2 separate regions of the Homo sapiens genome follow, and region 1 is linked to region 2. The links come from fine-mapping of genetic effects on gene expression. Tissue or cell type: whole blood. Region 2 holds a variant in brackets; the other region holds the start of a gene. All regions are shown on one strand. Distances are between the middles of the regions.

Region 1 (9,456 bases), 66 kb after region 2:
TAACTCACTGCAACCTCAAACTCCTAGTCTGAAGCAATCCTCCTGCCTCAGCCTCCCAAAGTGCTGGGGCTACTGGCATGAGCCACCATGCTCAGCCAATAAAGATAAGAACACTTGAACACTGTCAACCAACATGGCCTAATTGACATTTCTTAGAACATTCCACCCAACAACAGCAGAACACCGCCTTCTAAGGTTGGGATTCAAGGCATGGCTGTATTGAAAATCCAAGGAAGGCTTGGGTGGGGATAGTGGCTCATGCCTGTAATCCCAGAACTCTGGGAGGCTGAGGCAGGAGGCTCCTTGAGCCCAGGAATTTGAGACCAGACTGAGAAACTTGGCAAAACCTCATCTCTACAAAAAATAACAAGCAAACAAAAATTACCTAGGTGTGGTGGCATGTGCCTGTAGTCCCAGCTACTCAGGAGGCTGAGGTGGGAGGATTATTTGAGGCTGGGAGGGAGGTCGAGGCTGCAGTGAGCCACGATTGTGCCACTGCACTCCAGCTAGGTTGACAGAGTGAGATCCTGTCTCAAAAAAAAAAAAAGAAAAGGGCCGGGTGCGGTGGCTCACACCTGTTATCCCAGCACTTTGGGAGACTGAGGCGGGCGGATCACCTGAGGTCGGGAGCTCGAGACCAGCCTGACCAACATGGAGAAACCCCGTTTCTACTAAAAATACAAAATTAGCCACGTGTGGTGGCACATGCCTATAATTCCAGCTACTTGGGAGGCTGAGGCAGGAGAATCGCTTGAACTCGGGAGGCAGAGGTTGCGATGAGCGGAGATCGAGCCATTGCACTCCAGCCTGGGCAACAAGAGCGAAACTCCATCTCAAAAAAAAAAAAAAGAAAGAAAAGAAAGAAAGAAAAAAGAAAATCCAAGGCTAGAGGGCGCTGGAGAGGGCGTGCTGATAGAACACAAACCAGCCTGAGGGCCAAGCCTTGGGCCCCTCCAACCTTCAGAGGTCGCGAAGAGCAGGATCCAGCAGAGGAGACTGAGAAGGAACCTTGGTGACGAGGAGGATCTGGAGAGTGCGGCCACCAAAAGCCAGGTGAAGGTGGTGTTCAGAGAAGGAGGGAGTGCCGGCTGCATCAGTGTGTCCACGGGTCAAGCAAGATGAGGACTGAGAACTAGTCACTGGATTTGGCCACGCGGAAGTCACTGGTGACCTTGCCAAGAGTGCCTGCCCATGAATGTGGGGATGGGGTGGGAAAGGCAGTGCCCACATATGCTTATTCTCAAGGAGTTTTGCTGGAAAGGGCAGCAAAGCAGTGGAGAGGTGCTGGCAGTGGGCTACGGTAGGGCTTCCTTCTTTTCCTTTAAAGAAGGGATAGAATAGCTCAGACATCGGTGGAAAAAATCTAGGAGAGAGAGAGAACATCTGGGAGCGAGGGGAGAATTTCAGAGGTGATAACCCTGAGAGGAGATGGAGGCAGCACACCCAGGGAGTAGTGGTCCTGGCTGGGGACACCGACAGCCTTTGGTAAGAGAAGGGGCCACACACTACCAGAGGGAAGGGCCAGGGCGGTGTCAGAGGTTTTGAGGGTCTGCAGGCAGCCTGGGTTAATCCAGGGGTCAGGAGAGCCAGGTGGGAATTGTCTGCCCAGGTAGAGACAAGATTCACTAACATCTTCCCCATGGGCAGTGGGGTGCATGCTGGCATTTTCATTGTCATTACTTGTTCTGTGACCCTGGACAAGCAAGCCAGGTGACCTTGGGCAGGTGAGCCTGCTGTCACCAGGATGGATGGGCAGCAGGCTGGGGAGGTGGGTCCCCTACAAGCAGAAGAAAATTCCATGCGACACATCCTTTGCTGCCACTAGACGGCGCCAAGAGACCGTTCCGTTCTCACCACGCGCTTCAAACTCCAACCTGCTGGGGTCGAAGCCTCCAGGAACCAGATCTGGTTCAAGCCTCACCCTGAGGCTCATTTGACAAGGAATCAAGACAGAAAGGGGGTGGATCCTGGAATGAGCTTCCTCAGAAAGCGTCCTGCAGCCCTGCGAACCTGTGAAGTCCCAGCCTTGCCCTCCAGCAGCACCCTGACAGCCCCAGAGATGTGGCCAGGAAGGTCTTGATCCACAGTGCACCCCGTGTCCCCACGGCCACCGCCAGCGCCCCTTCCTCGGGGTAAGGCATTAGTTTCACACCCACCAACCAAGTGCACGCTTTGGTCCAGGCCCCGCTGGTGCTGAGAATCCCGAGAAGCTTAGACCTCCCTGCTCTCACAAGTGGGGATGAATGAATGAACGAATGAGCCCAAGATGGAAATTCTTTTTCTTTAAATTTATTATTATTATTATTATTATTATTATTATTATTATTTAGAGACGGGGTCTCACTCTCTTGCACAGGCTGGAGTGCAGTAGTGAGATCACAGCTCACTGCAGCCTCGACCTCCACCTCAACCTTTTGAGTAGCTGGGAACAAGGGTGTGCACCACCACACCTGGCCAAATGTGGAATTTCCAGGGAGTGGAGGGGAGATCCTGGGCACAGAGCCTGAAAGGGCTGGGGCAGCAGGGGTTCCTCTGAGGGGGTTGGTCCTGCCCGAAGGTTGTGAGAGGGAGAGGAAGGATGGTATGAAACTGGGCACCCGACTTGAGACTTGGACTTAAGGAGACATTGTTAAGAGAAGGGTGGGAATGAATGGGATCTCATCATGGATTTCCAATAGGATACAAGCGCCCTACCAGCCACTATCATCCCACATCAACCTAGAACGAATTCTCTCTCCAGCTTGCCCTGCCCCCTGCCCTGCCCAGAGTCTGTCCAAGCAGACTCTACCACAGACAGGAGAAAGCTGAGGCAGCAGAACAAGAGACGGGAGAGGCCAGGTTTGGGTGAGGGGCCCTACCCCCACCAGGGTCAGCTTGGGGTGTGCTGGAGCCAGAGTCCTGTGCCAGGAGGCAGAAGGGGCACCTTGAAAGAAGCTCCCCACACCCTTCAACCCTGGCACAGCCCAGCCAGCCACCCAGGTAATGCACTTAAAGTGCTCAGCACCCAGTCAGCGTTGACCACTCTTCTCGTTATATATTAAATACAACAAACATCTTTCAAGAACAAAAAGCAAGCATGTTTGGTCCATTCATGAATCCTTGTACACTGATTGTTCGGGTTCTTTCAGTTCCCATCCACTTAGAAATAACAAACATGTTTCATTTTGAGCCTATCCTACAGGGCCGCAAATCCGGAGCCTGCAGTTTGTTCTCTTGGCCTGGGGCCAGGTTGCAGATGTTTGAGTCCCTTGGATCCCTGAGTGGCTGCGTCTCCCAGTCTGGTGCTGACTCATGGTGCAGCCAGCATGCAGCCTGCCCATCGGCCAGGTCCCTGCAGGTTTCTGAGTCTCAGATGGTGGATGGCCTATTCAGAGTTCACAGATCTGCACCTAATAGACTTTCCTCTTTGTCCCTCTTTCTACCCCTAAAGTACATGTGAGGGGAAACCCTCTGCATGGTGCCTAGCACGCAGTGAACACTCAGCGTTCGCTGTCAGTGGTGTGTTATTATTATTCATTACCATTAGGATCCTTGCACAAACTCATCGCAGTTGCCTATTTATTTTTTCCAGGAAGATTACTCGGAACTGCTTAGGCACATCACACCAGGGCGGACTGATGGAGAGCAGGAAGATGGGGTATTCATCTGTCCCCTCTTCCACATGCTCCTTAAAGACAAGAATCATCTGATTAGTCTCCGTGTTCCAGCAACCCCCTGGGACCCAGCAACCGGTAATTAGGCAAGGAATAAGCTTATTGTATGTTTCACAGTTTTTCAAAGATGATTTGGGAGAATCAAATCATACCATCATCATTCCACCAATCAGGACTCGGCACTCTGACAGTGCACTTTGATGTTTAAAAAAAACAAAAAAACCAAAAAAAAAAAAAACGCCATTGGCTTCCCTCTCTCCACCCAACTTAAGAAAGAAGTTATGAATGTGAACTTTCAAAGGCCAATTACTACCCCTTAGAAGAACCTACCATCTCTAAACTACAAAGATGGGCAGCCTGGATTCTATTATTTTTATTATTTTACAAAATTCTTAATTTTTAAATACACATAGATATAGGGTCTCGCTAGGTTGACCAGGCTGGTCTTGGAACTTCTGGCCTCAAGCAATCCTCCCATCTCAGCCTCTCAAAATGCTAGGATTACAGGTGTGAGCCACCGCACCCAGCTGGGCAGCCTGGATTCTGGCTCTTATGTAGTCATGGTGTAGGGGAGGAGGTCGTGGTGGGTCCGAACTAGGGGGAAACTTGGTGGGCAGGCAACCCAGCCCCTGCCTTGTACGGACCCAGATACTGAGGCCCACAGAATGACAGTGCCAGCTCTAGGGGGCTGGAGGAGAGCCATTGCTGGAGGTAGCTGTTCTCAGTAGGTCTCCCTCTTGGTCCTCACAGCGTCCTCGGGGACAATGATTTTTGTCATTAGGAACCAGATCCCATCACAGCTTGGCTTTACGTACAGTGAAGGTGTCATTCCTGGCTTAACCTTACACTGCCCCGAAGGCCCCCTCCCCAGCTGTCCGTTTCCAGCCTGGCAATGGGACTCTCTGAGCACGCCCCTCATCTCCTCCCCCTCTGAAAAGTATCCTCAATCTCCCGGTCTATATCTAATAACACATCTGTCGTGCCTATATTTTGGTACCTGATACGTAGTCATTCATTCATTCAATGAGAGAACATTTAATGAGAGGTTAAGGGGCTTAGAACAACGCCGGGCACAGGCTAAGCGCTCACTAAACGTTAGCTCTCGCCAATAACATCACTGATTCACTATAAAGTTTCTCTGGCTGTGTGCTATTCGCTGCGTCCACAGCAGTGAAGAAGACAGACGCAGCCCCTGACCAACCTCGCCAAGCCCGGGCGCCGAGCCAGGACGTTGAGCCAAGTCCCCATCTCCTAGGACTCGCAGTGCGGAGGCTGCGGGCCCCGACCAGCGCCGAGACTACAAGTCCCAGAAGGGCGCGCGGCGACATCGCCGGGCCCGCCCCCCGCGCACGCGCGGCGCCGTGACGCTAAGGCCGCGAGCGAGCGCGGGTGGCTGCGGCGGCTGCGGCCGGCGGGGCGGGGCGGGGCCACCTGGCAGTGGCTGCCTTTAGGGCGGAGCCGGCTCCCGCTCTCCTCAGTCTGCGGTGGGCTAGCGGACGGTCCGGCTTCCGGCGGCCGTTTCTGTCTCTTGCTGGCTGTCTCGCTGAGTCGCGGCCGCCTTCTCATCGCTCCTGGAAGGTCCCGAGCGCGACACCATGTCGGAGCCCGGGGGCGGCGGCGGCGAGGACGGCTCGGCCGGATTGGAAGTGTCGGCCGTGCAGAATGTGGCGGACGTGTCGGTGCTGCAGAAGCACCTGCGCAAGCTGGTGCCGCTGCTGCTGGAGGACGGCGGCGAGGCGCCGGCCGCGCTGGAGGCGGCGCTGGAGGAGAAGAGCGCCCTGGAGCAGATGCGCAAGTTCCTTTCGGACCCGCAGGTCCACACGGTGCTGGTGGAGCGCTCCACGCTCAAAGGTGCGGGGCCGCGGAGGGCAGGGTCGCCAGAGCCAGGCCTCGCGGAATGCAGGGCCTGCCAGGTCCTCCGGGGTCGCAGATGTCCCCGGGATGGGAGGAGCCCGGCAGCTGCAGATGACCCCTGGATGGGCAGAGCCCGGCGGCCGCAGACGTCCCGCCGGCCGGGTCCCCAGGGCCGCAGACGCCCCGCAGAGGCCGGCGCGGCGCCCGGGGCTCGCCCTCGCCACACCCACTGCCCGGCCCGGAGCCCCCAGGGCGCCCCGCTCCTGGTCGCGGGGAGGGGAAAGGGGTCCCCGTCTGCCGTCACCCAAAACAATGGGGTCGCTTTGTCTGCTCGGGCCTCTCAAGATGGCCGAGTTGGGTGGAGACAGCGTCTCCCTGGGCTGAGAGCGGGCGAGGCCGCATCCCTGCCTCCAGTGTCACATGAGCTTTTCGGTTTCGATTTGTGTCCAAGCCAAGTGGCCTTCGGGAGGGATGTGTCGGGGGCAGACCCGCGGAGCTGGGGGCAGCCGGGGTTCTGGTTCGGGAGGAGGTCGGGCGGGTGTCCCAGCCCTGCCTTGTGGGGACCCAGAGGCCGAGGCCCACAGAGCGACGGTGCCAGCCCCGGGCCTGCGAGCATCACTGTTGTAGGTGGATGCTCTCACAGCATCCTTGCTGAACGGGTGTATCCTGATTTTACACCTGAGGAAACTGAGGCTCAGGTTAAGTGATTTCACCCAAGGTCACCAGCTAATCTTAGTCCTGAGACTAGACTCAGTGTCTCAGCTCCCCATCCACTGCTTGTTTTCACTGATCATACCTCATATTTGTTTAATGCTTCGATGATGTTAATGATAACCCTGTAATATTTGAGTCTAATTTTACAGATTAAAAAAAAAAAAAAAGATTCAGGTTAGGCACCTAGTAGGGGGAAGAGGCTAGAGTTAGCGTGTTCCAGCTGTCTCCTCAAATAATGATCGCCCACCAGCAAGGTTACATTCATCTAAGTCTGGGGCTTGCCTGCAGGCAGGCTTTCTCATGGATTCATTACAACCACTTTGTAGCCCATTACAACCACTTTGGGTGTGGCGTGTCCATCTAAGAACCTAAGGATGATGTCCAAGGTTAGCCTCTAGGGATTGGAGATTGTCTAAAAATATTTGCCAACAAGCTTCTTAAAATTTCAAAAAACTGTATGGTTCTCTCAGTGAGAGACCCTGTACTGTCTGCCCCATCCTTAACACACACTGTGTTTCTGATGGTTTGTTTCTTTCAAAGGCTATTCTTACTCAGAAGATGCTTCCCTGTAGCCTTGGTTTCCTGCCAGAGATTAGCAGGGTGTAAAAGAATATTTTTTTCTTATATCCACGTGGAATGTTCAAGGCAAATAAACCATTTGAGCATATTTAGAGTATTAATGTTTTTGAGGGTTGTTTACTGTGATGTTTGGGATTATGTATTCCTAAGTGGAAGCCACAAAAGTTAAAAAAAAAAAATTTATCTACTCTTTTTTTTTTCCAAAAAACATATAGTCATTGTAGAAAATGTACTATACAGCTAAAGTAAAAATCACTGGGAATTGTTTGACCCAGATATAATCACTGTCAGCATTTTTGGTTTATGTCTTTGTGGTCATTTTTCAATGCATATTCGTCATTTTATTAAAATACATTTTAATCTGCATTTTTAAAGTTAATTGTATTTTGAGTAGCTTGACCATTGCTAATCCTTGATATTTTTATTGCATAGTTTATGTATTAGAATCAGTGATTTTATTTTTTTTACCTTGTGTCACTCTTTTTATGAAAAAAAATTTAAGTTTTATACTTTGCTTCTAGAGTGATCACCAGTAATTCGCTTTTTCCAGGCATCTTAAAATTGGACGTTGCTAAAATTATTGGGGTGGGGGGACTATGTTTATGTAGTACAATATCTACTACAAATTCTCTCTGTTGTCTTATGAGTACCTTTTTTTCTTTCAGCAAAACAAATATGCAGGTATCCAAATCTTGGCTCCATAATGACTTGCACTTTTGAAAGTTGACTAAGGAATGAGACTATCTAAAATTGAAATCCTACCTCATTTCTGTATTTATAACAATCCTTGAAGTATTTCTACCAATTCAACCTGTCTATAATTTATTTTTCACTTACAAAAACCTAAGGAAAGATTTTTAAATTAATCCAGTTTTATGATAGATGGTCTGTTTGTCTTATTAGCAGCCTGGCTACACTAGGACACCTTAGATATAAGTAGAGACCCAGGACTTTTGGTAGGAGGGCTTTCTTCTTGGTGGCTTTTATGAGTTAGCTTTGGCATTTGTACATTTAATCAAATATGTGCATCCAGTAGTTAATTACAGTGAAAAGATAGGCATGCATTAATGTAGACAACAGAGCTGAATTATTTAAACTGAATAAAGATCACCAACAATGAAGTCATGTAATTTAATGAACAGTAGAAATTACTTTTATTTATTTTATTCCTTCCACTTTTTTTGTGGAAGTATCCAAACACTTGTAATTGAATATAGAAACATTTTTATGTGAAACTATATATATTTTTTATTTGTTTGTTTGTTTTAGCTACCCCAGCTAGCCATAAACTTTTGTTGTTAAAGTGCAGCATTGAGCTGGGTGCGGTGGCTCACACCTGTAATCCCAGCACTTTGGGAGACCAAGGCAGGAGGATCACTTGAGGCCAGGAGTTCAAGACCAGCCTGGGCAACATAGCAAGACCCTATCTCTACAGAAAATTAAAAAATAAGCCAGGCATGGTGGTGTATGCCAGTAGTTCCAGCTACTTGAGAAAATTGCTTGAGCCCAGGAGTTTGACGCTGTGGTGAACTAGGATCACACCACTTTGCTCCAGCCTGGGTACAGAGTGAGACCCTATCTCTAAAATAAATCAAGTACAGCATTACTCAAAGTATAGAATAAATGTTGTGAATTTAACAACTCATCTTGATACTGAGGAATTGGAGAGTTTGTGGGAAAAAGGGATTAAGTTATAGCTCCTCATTTTAAAAAGAGAAACCTTTGTATAGTTCCTGGCCTGTAGGAAATTGTCTTCCTCATAGTATGCTTACAGCATGGTGACAAAATAGGTGCTCATTACTTAACTAGCCATTTTATGTTAATGACGTTTTTGTAGCATTTTTTACTTCAAGGACCATTTTTTGGTTGTGTATCTCCGTTCGGTGGGGTATGCTTCAGTTTGCAGCTGATGGAACTGACATTTCCATGACTTGTCTGCTCTGCAGCTTGTTCATGACCTGCCTGGGATTGGCTGCTAGGTTGGTTGGTCTGGATGAGAGCGTGTAGTTTGGGTTTTTTGTTTGTTTTTGGTGGGGAAAGGGTTTTGTTTTGTTTTGTTTTGTTTGAGACAGGGTCTCAACTGTGTCACCCAGGCAGGAGTGCAGTGGCCCAGTCATGGCTCATTGCCACCTCGGCCTCCTGGGCTCCCAGTTCATTTTCTCATTTTTTTAATAGAGAGGAGGTCTCACCATGTTGCCCAGGCTGGTCTGGGACTTCAGGGCTCAAGCAATACTTCCACCTCCGCCTGCCAAAGTGCTGGGATTACAGGTGTGAGCTACCACACCCCACGTGTTTGTTTGTTTAACACTCCAGTGTTTGAGACTTGGAATTTTTTTTTTGAGACAGGGTCTCACTGTTGTCCAGGTTGGAGTGCAGTGGCACAATCTCTGCTCACCGCATCCTCAACCTCCGGTCTCAAGCGATCCACCCATCTCAGCCTCCTGAGTAGCTGGGATTACAGGCACACACCACCACGCCTGGCTCATTGTTGTATTTTTTGTAGAGGCAGGGTCTCCCCATGTTGCCCAGGCTGGTCTTGAACTCTTGGACACAAGTGATCCTGCTACCTCAGCCTCCCAAAGTGCCAGGATTACAGGCGTGCGCCATGACATCCAGCCTGAGGATTTAATTCTAAAGGATGAAGAAATGTAGTTTA
Region 2 (10,959 bases):
AACCAGCTCTCATCCAGCATCCACTGGGTCTCTGTTACCAACATTAGAATAACATACCTGAATTACTCCAGGCAGCAAGAATGCCTACCAGATGGATAAGGCTGAGGGAAGGTGTTGGGTGGGGGGTGGGGGGGGTCCCACGTGAACTGTCCCGTCTTCCTGGCCTGTTTAGGGAGGAAGATTTTGCCACCAGGAGCTCCTGCTGTTGAGCCAGCTCCCTGCTGTTCTGGGTAACACCTGTAAACCCAGAATTTTTAAATTATGTAGTTACAAAGATAAAAATAACTATACTTCCTGGTAGGCATTTAGCATTTTTAAACTTTTTGCTGGTATCCTCTTTTTTCTGATACACACACACATACACACACACATATGTATATATATAGGAAGAATCCTCGGATTTCCCTCTTAGGCTGTTGCAGGGACCGGAGCACTATATGAAGTGTTCCACAGACCCCTATATAGGATCTCGCTATACTACCCAGGCTAGAGAACAGTGGCTCTTCACAGGTGTGATTATAGCGCACTACAGCCTCGAACTCCGGGTTCAGATGATCCTGCCGCCTCAGCCTCCCAAGTTAGCTGGGGCACAGGTGCATGGCAACATGCTTGGCTACGTATATTTTGCCTGCTGGGTTTTGATGGTGAAAACAAAAATTGAAAGACGGCAAGATATTTGTTTAAAACCTGGAATTCGTAAATGTTCAAACCTAATAAATGTTCTTTTTACAGTATAATTAATGGATTTGCCTTACCACTAAAAGAAGAGCACAAGATTTTCTTATTGAAGGTGTTACTACCTTTGCACAAAGTGAAATCTCTGAGTGTCTACCATCCCCAGGTAAGGGGCAGCAGGACTCTAGGAACACAGCTGTTGGCATTTGATCAGGATTGAACACGAGATAGTGAATCCGGCCTTGACTGAGAGTGCTTTCTTCTTTATAGGCCTGTACTAACTTTGGTAACAAACTTCTGGTGATAATCGAAAGAATAAGGGGGTAAAGAGAGATTCCTTTTAAGAAATTCAGAAAAATCTCTGTAATACAGAATTTTTCAGTTTTAAGCATTGAGAAAGGAGTAACTCTCTGAAAGGAGTCTAGGAAGACTTCTGAGAGGAGTTTTCTGTAGTGTAATCTAAAATTCAGTACCTTAAAGAGAAAAGCCTATATAGGTCCATGGCCAATGAATGGCCTATGAAAACGTTTTTTAAAAAAATAAAGCTGCCTATAATCCCAGCACTTTGGGAGGCTGAGGCGGACAGATCACCTGAGGTTGGGAGTTCAAGACCAGCCTGACCAACATGGAGAAAACCGTCTCTACTTAAAATACAAAACTAGCCGGGCATGGTGGCACATGCCTGTAATCCCAGCTCCTCAGGAGGCTGAGGCAGGAGAATCGCTTGAACCCGGGAGGCGGAGGTTGCAGTGAGCCGAGATCGCGCCATTGCACTCCAGCCTGGGCAACAAGAGTGAAACTCCATCTCAAAAATAAATAAATAAATGAATGAATAAAGCTGTGAATTTTTTAAACTGTAGTAATCTAAGTACAGCTGTACTGAAAAATTGGTCAATAAGTGGTTAATGGACTGCATTTACCTGGATTTGGTTTTCTCTCACTCTTTGGCTGCAGTGGGCGTCTTTGTTCACTTCCGGCTGTCACAGGGCCAGGCACTGAGCAGTCACGCCCCAGCACAGGCACAGGGGTGCACAAGGCTCCTCTCTGCCAGGCCCCACTTTCAGAGCTTATGGTAGGGGCTAAATGACAAAAAGTATATTCTTTAATTGATTCTTCCTAGAACATATTTATTTTCTCTGACTGCTCTTAACTGGTAATATCTTTGCATCCAGCCAGATTATCATATTGTTGTACAAAAGAAATTAATAGTTCAGAGATTTAAGATGGAACCAGATTTTAATTTGTTGTTCCCCACTGTTAGATGACTCGTTGATTGTAGTCTGCACAAGGACCCCAAGAAAATCCCATCATACTGGATTGACTTAGCGGTGGTTAGACTAAAAAGACTGTTTCCTGATTTATTTTTCTTATTTTTATTTTTCAGCTTTCTGATCTATCACCAATTAATGGGCATAAATGTTAATGCCCGTTAATCACACAAGGGCTTTGTCTGTACCGTGGGTCCTTGTCTTGCTGTGGGAAGGTGTTTAACGATGATTCTAGAAGAAGCACAGCAGCATTTTTATGTTGAAATGTTAATGCTCTTTCTCCTTTTACTTTTTAGCTGGCATACTGTGTAGTGCAGTTTTTAGAAAAGGACAGCACCCTCACGGAACCAGTAAGTACTGATGCTAGCGCGTCTTGTAAGATGTGTGCATTTCACTAAATGTAAATATTACAACATCTGCTTCACCAAATTGCCATTCATTCAGACTTTTTCATCTTAAATTGCAATACTAATAAACAGGCTCATTTCATTCATGGGTTATAGGTTTTCAAAGTATAGTCATTTTAATTGCAGATTCCTTTATTATAGTGATTATTTTATGTAATGAGATTGCCACCTTGTCCCTCGTTGCACTTTACTGTTTGAACGTAAAGCACTTGAGCGGTTATTGTAGCCACTAAATTTTAGTGTGCAATTCAGTAGTTTCACATCTGCTTGGTTTGACAACATATTGAACTGATTATGATCAGAGGAATTATAGTTAGGGTTTGAAATTATTGTTGTACTAAAGAGGCTTTACCGCCTTGAAAATACTTCCCAAGTTACACTGTAACTATTTTATGATCATTGAATCACAAGTGAACGTTAGATTACTGCTGTTCTGTGCGTGGATCTGTAATTTTTTTTCAGCCTCCATAATTATGTCAGAGGATTTATAATTTTCTTAACATTTTATGTTTATTAAAATAGGCTATCATAGCCAGGGTTAACAAAGCCAGACATGTCAGGTGCCAGTTTAAGCATTTAAATACATTTTTTGAAACAACTTTATTGAGATATAATTCACATACCACACAATTCACCCATTTAAAGAGTACAATTCAAAAATTTTTGATACGTTACATTTTGAATTTTTTTAAATTGTGGTAAAATACATATAACATAAAATTTGTCATTTTAACCGCGTTAAATGTACAGTTCACCAGCGTTAATGACATTCATAGTGTTGCGCAACCATCACCACTATTTCCAAAGCTTTGTCATCATCCCAAACAGAAATTCTACCCATTAAACAATAACTCTCCGTTCTCCCTCCCTCTGGCCCCTGCTGACCTGTAATCTACTTTATCTCTGAATTTGACTATTCTAGGTACCTTATATAAGGAGAATCATAAAACGCTTGTCCTTTCACACCTGGCTTATTTCACTCAGCGTAATGTCTTCCAGGGCTCATTCTTGGGTTGCGTATCAGAACTTCATTCCTCATCATGGTTGAATGCTGTTCTATCATATGGATAGAACACATTGGGTTTATTCATTGTTTTTTCAGTGTACACCTGGGTTGTTCCCACCTTTTAGCTATTGTGAATAATGCTGCTATTTGGATACTGGTGTACAAATATTTGCTATAATCCCCATTTTCAGTTCCTTTGGATATATATCCAGGAGTGGAATTGCTGAATCATATGGTAATTGTATGTTTAGCTGCGGGACAGACCCCCATACTGTTTTCCACAGTGACTGTCCCGTTTTACATTCCCTGCAGCAATGCACAAAGGCTCCCATCTCCCCACATTCTCACCAGTGCTGATGCTGCTGCTGCTGCTGTTGCTTTCTTTTTATTTATTTTATTTTATCTTATTTTTTTGAGAGAAAGTCTCACTCTGTCACCCAGGCTGGAGTGCAATGGTGCAATCTTGGCTCACCACAACCTCTGCCTCCTGGGTTCAAGCGATTCTCCTATCTCAGCCTCCCAAGTAGCTGGGATTACAGGTGCCTGCCACCATGCCCGGCTAATTTTTGCATTTTTATTAGAGACAGAGTTTCACCATGTTGGCCAGGCTGGTCTCAAACTCCTGACCTCAAGTGATCCACCCGCCTCAGCCTCCCAAAGTGCTAGGATAACAGGCGTAAGCCACCACACCCGACCTGTTGTTTTAATTATAGCCATCCTAGTGGTGTGAAAGAGTATCTTGTTGTGGTTTTGATTTGCAGTTCCCTAATGACTGATGATGTTGAGCATCTTTTCAGCGCTTGTTGACCAAAATCTGTATATCTTCTTGGCCGGGCGCGGTGGCTCACGCCTGTAGTCCCAACACTTTGGGAGGCTGAGGCGGGTGAATCACTTGAGCCCAAGAGTTGGAGACCAGCCTGGGCAATATGGCAAAATCCCATCTCTACAAAAAATACAAAAATTAGCCAGGCATGATGGCGTGTGCCTGGGCAACACAGTGAAACCCTGTCTCCAAAAAAAAAAAAAAAAAAAGTGTATATCTTCTTTGCAGAAATGTCCATTTAAATCCATTGCCCATTTTTTACATTGGAGTTTTTTTTTAATTATTTGAGTATCAAAGTAAGGAATGTTAGGAACCAATTCAAATGTTTGAATGCTCTTTTAAAAGTCACTGTTAGACTAGAAAAAGTAGATCTTGTCACTCCTGGGCCCTTTCTCTCTTTCACAGTTCTTTTGTGAAGTTGTAATTTTTATAGTGAAATTGCATGAGAAATTCTTAACATTGAATTTCTGAGTTAAACTGGCTTTTGGGCTCTGCTTTCTTGTAAGTTTTTAAATTCTATGTGTAGATTCCCTCCATTTCACCCACAAAATTCAAGAAGAGCTCTTGTCCTATGACTGCAGAGGTAGCAGGTGCTACAGAGCCACGAGCTGGGCCCGCCCTGTCCTGCCGGGCCCTCGTGGAAGGACGCATCCCTGCACACTCTCCCTCCAGCCCCTAGATACCTCCGCCTGAGATTTTGGGGACCTCCCAAGGAAATGTACCAAATCTCATCACACTTCAGCATCAAGCATAGTCAAGGCTTAGGGTGAGGAGGTGTTATTTTTATCCTTCTTAACGACTGAAGACATGTTTAGGTAGGAAAAAGAAAAATGAACAGTGTTAATAAAACTCATTGGGGATTTTTTTTTTAAACTGTATTTTCTCCAGTGGTTACATGCCCTAACTCTTCTGCCTATATCTGAGGTATTCTCCAAACTGAAGGGTGAGAGGTTGTATTTTTTTTTTTTTTTGAGACAGGATCTCGCTCTGTCACCCAGGTCCCACAATAGCCCGTCTGCAAGCTGAGGAGCAGGGAAGCCAGGCCCGTTCCAAAGCTGAGGAACTTGGATTCCGATGTTCGAGGGCAGGAAGCGTCCGGCACGGGAGAAAGATGCAGGCTGGGAGGCTAGGCCAGTCTAGTCTTTTCACGTTCTTCTGCCTGCTTTATATTCTGGCCTCTCTGGCAGCTTAGGTGGTGCCCACCCCCATTAAGGGTGGGTCTGCCTTTCCTAGCCCACTGACTCACATGTTAATCTCCTTTTGCAACACCCTCACAGGCACACCCAGTGCATCCTTCAATCCAAACAAGTTGACACTGAGTATTAACTATCACAGAGGTTTTACTGGAGAAAGTAATATGTAAAAAAAAAAAAAAAATTTATCTCTCCCCTCCTCTCCCACCTTTTCCTATTCAAAAATAAAAGACAACTGGGCACAGTGGCTCATGCCCCTAATCCCAGCACTTTGGGAGGCCAAGGCAGGAGGAGCCCTTGAAGCCAGGAGTTTGAGACCAGCCTGGGAAACATAGTGAGACCTCCTCTCTACCAAAAAAAAAAAAATTTAATTAGCTGGGCATGGTGACATGTACCTGTGGTCCCAGCTACTCGAGAGGCCGAGGTGGAAGAGTTGTTTGAGCCCAGGGGGTCAAGGCTGCAGTGAGCTATGAACGCACCAACTTCACTCCATCCTGAGTGACAGAGTAAGACCCTGTCTCAAATAAATAAGTAAATACAAATGGAAGGGAAAAAAAGCTATGGAAGGAGAGATTTTTGAAAGTAT[G/A]TATTTTTCTTTCATGAATTTTCTTTGTGCGTATTTCTCATATCCTGTAGTGGCTGAACAATTCACCAAATGCCACATTGCGTTTACCACAGACAGAGGCTGCTCCCACCTAAGCCACTGTCCCAGCATCTCTATCCCGCCATCCACTGTCTGTCAGCCTGACCCTAACCTTCTCCACCGAGGGCTCGGTGAATGAGCCTCACCCTATTCTCTCTTCCACCGAAAAGTAACACAAAAGCAGAGAATGTTTGTAAAAGTTTTTAATTCCCACTAATATAGTAAATAAAGTGAATATCACTTTGCAAGAGTGAGAGCTGTTAATTGCAGTCCTGTCTAAAAGAGGGCAAGAGACCCCGTGCCGGCTTCAGTTGGGTCCTTCCGGCGTAAATGTTACATGCAGGACTCTGACTTGGCACCAGCACAAAGGAGGTGCAAACCCCACCAACCTAGGCCCCGATGTTCCCACCCGGGGACACTTCATTGCTTAGTTTCCTGCTGCACAGATAATGTAATAGTACCGTCCTGGCTTTAGAAAGCAGATTCAATTTCCTACATGTTAAGAACATTCAGACCCTCATGTCAGTAAATTCCCTCTTTTGAAATGCCTATTTATGAAAACACAAAGGCCATTTTGTCTTATTTCAGCATTGAAAGCTTGTTAATGAGATGATCAAAGTATAGGCTTTGGTGCAGGTGTACATCTCTTGGTAGCACTAAGGACACCTGGTGTCCACGTCCATCTCCCAGGCCTGCACCAAAGGGACTCCTGAAGCCATCAAATGTCCAGGCTCAGGAATGTTTAAAGTAAGATCCACTTAGAAGACTGAGATATGAAGGACATGTGTTGCCCCATTTGTAGCCTGTAATTAGTATTTTTCATTTGCTAATTGTGTACAGTGCTCAAAAGCTTTCTGGGCACATGAAACACTTTCTCTGTTGGAAGAATAACAAAAGCTCATCAGAGATTTTACAGAAGTAAAACTGTGTTCCGTTTTCACCCACCTGCCTCTTCAGTCTCATCACATTTTACTACATGGCATAGTAGCGGCTCTCCTTTCTCCTTGGTCTACCAGGACAGGAAGGGGGCTCCCCAAGACTCAAGGCTGGGGCCACTGGCTCGCCTGCCCTCTGCAGGGAGCGGGCAGTCCTTGGGCTTCCAAAGGAAAACTCGGGGCCTTGTGCTGCACCCAGCAGCACACAGCCATTGTTGCCTCGGATTCACATTCCCTGAGTAGACACCCTCCTCCACAGAGCACGCCACACTGACGCAGCAAAATAGCTGATACCGATCACAGCTCATTCCAAACAATGTGAACAGGAAGGCCCGTGTGTGAATCCGATCCCAGAAATGATACCTTTTCCAGAGAAATGGAATAGCTAAATCGGTTGTGTTGTATAGTTCACAAATTAACATATTTCTCCTAATAAAATTCCATTTGACAAATGAAGAGAAATAGATGTAGGAAGTGATTTCCATCTGCTGTGTCCTTAATAGTGATTCCAATACACGCAAAGTGTGGTAGGAACACAATAAATACTTATTCAATAGTTTTGAGCTAGGAGAACCATTAAATGATGCATTTTTAGAAATAATTCCTTTTAAAGACACTTGTATGGTAGATTTTTATGTCAGACTTGAAAACTAGCAGCACTTCCTTTTTTATTTTTATTTGGCTCTTTTGGGGTTTTTGTTTGTTTGTTAGATTCTTGGAGTACAGTGGCGCAGTCATGGCTCACTGCAGCCTCAACCTCCTGGGCTCAAGCAATCCTCCCACCTTAGCCTCTCGAGTAGCTAGGACCACAGGTGCCCATCACCACACCAGGCTAATTTTTAAATTTTGTGTAGAGACAGGACCTCACCACGGTGCCCAGGTCGGTCTCGAACTCCTGGGCTCAAGCATTCCTCCCACCTCGACCTCCCAAAGTCCTGAGATTACATGCGTGAGCCACCACGCCCAGCCTTACTTTCCTTTGTTTCATGAATTTTGGAGTTTTATAAAGTGTAATATCATAAAAGATTACCTGGGAGCCCAAATGCCAAAGCATCAAAACAAAATTTTTCTAAATGGATGTTAAATGTCCACCTTTTTAAAAAATCACTGTAATGACTAAAAGGCTGGCCTGCTAAGCCATGAGTTGGTGCGATCTACTGAGCTGGAAATGACTAGTGAGTGAAAACGACCAGGCGGTCCCGGGGGCCAGCACTTGTGGCAATTGCACAGCACAAGAGTCGGGTAGAAGCCCCGCGGTGTTGCTGTGACGAGGCCAAAGAGCTGCTCTAACGCACCGGATTGCACTTGTACAATTCAGTGTGTAAGCACATATATGCACTTCATATGCAAATGCCTGTTTTGGATTGTTGTACTCTTTTAGAACTAAGATGGCTAAACTCTAAAAATATTATGAAATCTGCATGGATTCACATTCAGTATTTTGTACTGGTATGATTGTGGTAAGACATTTGGAAACTACAGGAACATATAAAGAAAGGTTGCCCAGTGGAAATTCTTTCTAGCTGTCTGACTTGGCCAAGGAACATAAAACATCCACTATCCACAAACTGGGAAACCACTGCAGTCCGACGGGCTGTGCCTGGCAGAGAGCTGGTGGCACAGACCCTCTGGGTGGTGACAATCCTGGCTACAGCTGCCACTGCAGCCTGCTCACCGCAGGCCCAGCACTGCTCAGGCTGTTGTATCTGACGCCCACAGGTGTGCGCACAGAGAGCACAGTACGCCCTGCCCGGGAGGTCCCATCGCAGTACCTGTGGATGTGAGTTAATAAGGTCAGCTTAATTCACATCACTCCTTTTGATATATTTTAACACAGTTGAAAACACTGTCTATGCATACAGAAGTATGTGTGTTTGTGTATAAACACATATGGATGGTTGATAAATTTGAGAAAGAAATGGGTTGTGTACACGTGGCCCACAGTTTCAGTACTGGCTGCTTCCACAACTAAAATGTACACATGAATTGATAATGCTCTGTGTTTTCTCCGTTGATCTTATTCTTTCTAAATTATTGTCCTAACTTCTTATTTTTTTTTCTTTTTTTAAAAAAAGGAATGGACTCTTACTGAAATGGTGTTTGATCAGAGAAAGTGGGTTATATAAACTAAAATTGTGTAATTTCTGAAGTGTATAAAATTAAGCCAGGCAGGTGGTACGTGCCTGTGGTCCCAGCTACTCAGAGGCTGAAAGAGGAGGATCACTTGAGCCAAGGAGTTCAAGTCCAGCCTGGACAACATAATGTGACCCATCTCTAAATAAATTGATTGATCAGATAGATAACCAGACAGACAGACCTACTTCTCAAATACAGAAAATCACATATGATGACTGAGTCACTGTTCCCTCTGTAAGGAAGATGGCACCATCTCCGTGTGTTGCCTTGCAGTGGGGCCACCGCAGTGAAAACACAGACTTCTTACCATGCAGGTGTTGGGGCCTCGTGGGCATCAGTCACTCCACGTGTCATTTCTTTTGTAGGTGGTGATGGCACTTCTCAAATACTGGCCAAAGACTCACAGTCCAAAAGAAGTAATGTTCTTAAACGAATTAGAAGAGATTTTAGATGTCATTGAACCATCAGAATTTGTGAAGATCATGGAACCCCTCTTCCGGCAGTTGGCCAAATGTGTCTCCAGCCCACACTTCCAGGTATGTGGGGCTTGGGGGACCTGATTAAATTCTTCCAGTGTTCATTTGGGAAAGGAAAAGTTCCATGCGTAGCTGGCCATGCTTTGCCTCTCATGCAATTTAAAGGTAAAATCCAAGTTTTTACTTGAATTATACTTCAAATACGATGCTGTAACTTGAATTCTATAGAATACCCTTGAGCATCTTGTCCCTTCTGCCGCGATACTTTTTCTCACTAAGAGCAGTCATCTGGCTTCTCTGTAAAGCTGTCTTTATCTTCATGTTCAGTGTGCTTCCAAGTTCATAAACACCCTCCTTTCCACACCTGAGCATCAATATTGATAGACAACGGGTGGCCAAAGCCTCGGCTCTGAGATGCTCTTGCTGCCGAGGCCCTTCGTTCCTGACACTGTGTAAATCTGTCTCCCTTTACCCTTTCAAAAAGGCTGAGAGCTCTGACTTTTGTCACTGCCAAATTCCTGTGCGAGAGGACGACCTTGGTCAGAGCTACTTTCTACTTTCTTTTCCCAATTTCCTTAACCCTTCAAGCCAGCCTCGGCTCATCACCTCTTTTGAAGGCCACCCCCACACACCTTCCCAGCCTGCCTGCCTCTGTTGGACGTGCTAGCCACCTGTCCTTTTGCATCATTGAGCGGATTTTATTGTGCACTCATCATGAACAAGGTGAAAATAGGCACAAAATAAGCAAGACCTCCCGGTGCCCAGGGAGCAGGCCACACAGTGGAAGAGAGTGACCATGTCACACCACCACCTTACAGCCAAACGTGAAGGGCCAGGTGGCGTGTGCAGCAGGCTCTCAGAAACACATGGGCAGTTACCTTAGCACAAGTCTAAGTGGTTAGAAAAAGTCCACAAGAATGAGGGGTCCTCCAAACTGAGCCTTTCAAGATGGTTTTGGAAAGAGATCATTGAAACCAACAAAACTAAGACAAGAAGGCAAGTGATAGAAGAGTAAGAAGCTCTGGAGCACGGGCAGCCATAGTAAAGTGAGGCCAGGCTGAGTCGGGTTAAAGGAAGGAACTGCTGTGGTGTAGTCTCTTCCATACAAATATTCAGGTTATTTTCATTTTATAAATTCCAATGAGTTTTCACATTAGGAACTAAGAAAGGAAAATTATGTTTTGGGTTTTTTTTTTTTTTTTTTCATCAATCCTGGCCTACAGAGAAAATAATGTTTCTCAAGGCTTTCAGTGTGAGCACTTTGCACAAAGGAGCATGGTTTCCTAGAAACTGTAGAGACCAGCGCCACGGAGCCCTGGCTGAAGTACAGGGCGTTCGTATGCCAAGGAGAGACTGGCAGTCGTGGGAAGTGTCCCAAAAACTTGAGCCCCTTCCCC

The links. PIP is the estimated chance that this variant, and not a neighbour inherited with it, causes the effect.
Region 1: it holds the start of DYNC1H1, and the variant in region 2 is fine-mapped to the expression of DYNC1H1 in whole blood (TOPMed, PIP 0.98).

Annotation. Positions count from the first base shown.
Region 1 is chr14:101,959,444-101,968,899 of GRCh38, forward strand. It overlaps DYNC1H1 (dynein cytoplasmic 1 heavy chain 1), which reads left to right and starts at 5,130. Exons shown (of 78, transcript NM_001376.5): 1 at 5,130-5,504. The coding sequence starts at 5,249. RefSeq lists silencers at 1,842-2,018, 4,963-5,122, 5,613-5,822 and enhancers at 1,941-2,000, 4,683-4,822, 4,867-5,477, 5,478-6,087.
Region 2 is chr14:101,892,268-101,903,226 of GRCh38, forward strand. PPP2R5C (protein phosphatase 2 regulatory subunit B'gamma) reads left to right here. Exons shown (of 16, transcript NM_001352913.2): 9 at 733-841; 10 at 2,240-2,293; 11 at 9,452-9,622. Among named protein-coding and RNA genes, the nearest start is that of DYNC1H1, 67 kb to the right of the region's middle. The variant G/A (reference allele first, on the strand shown) is at 5,959.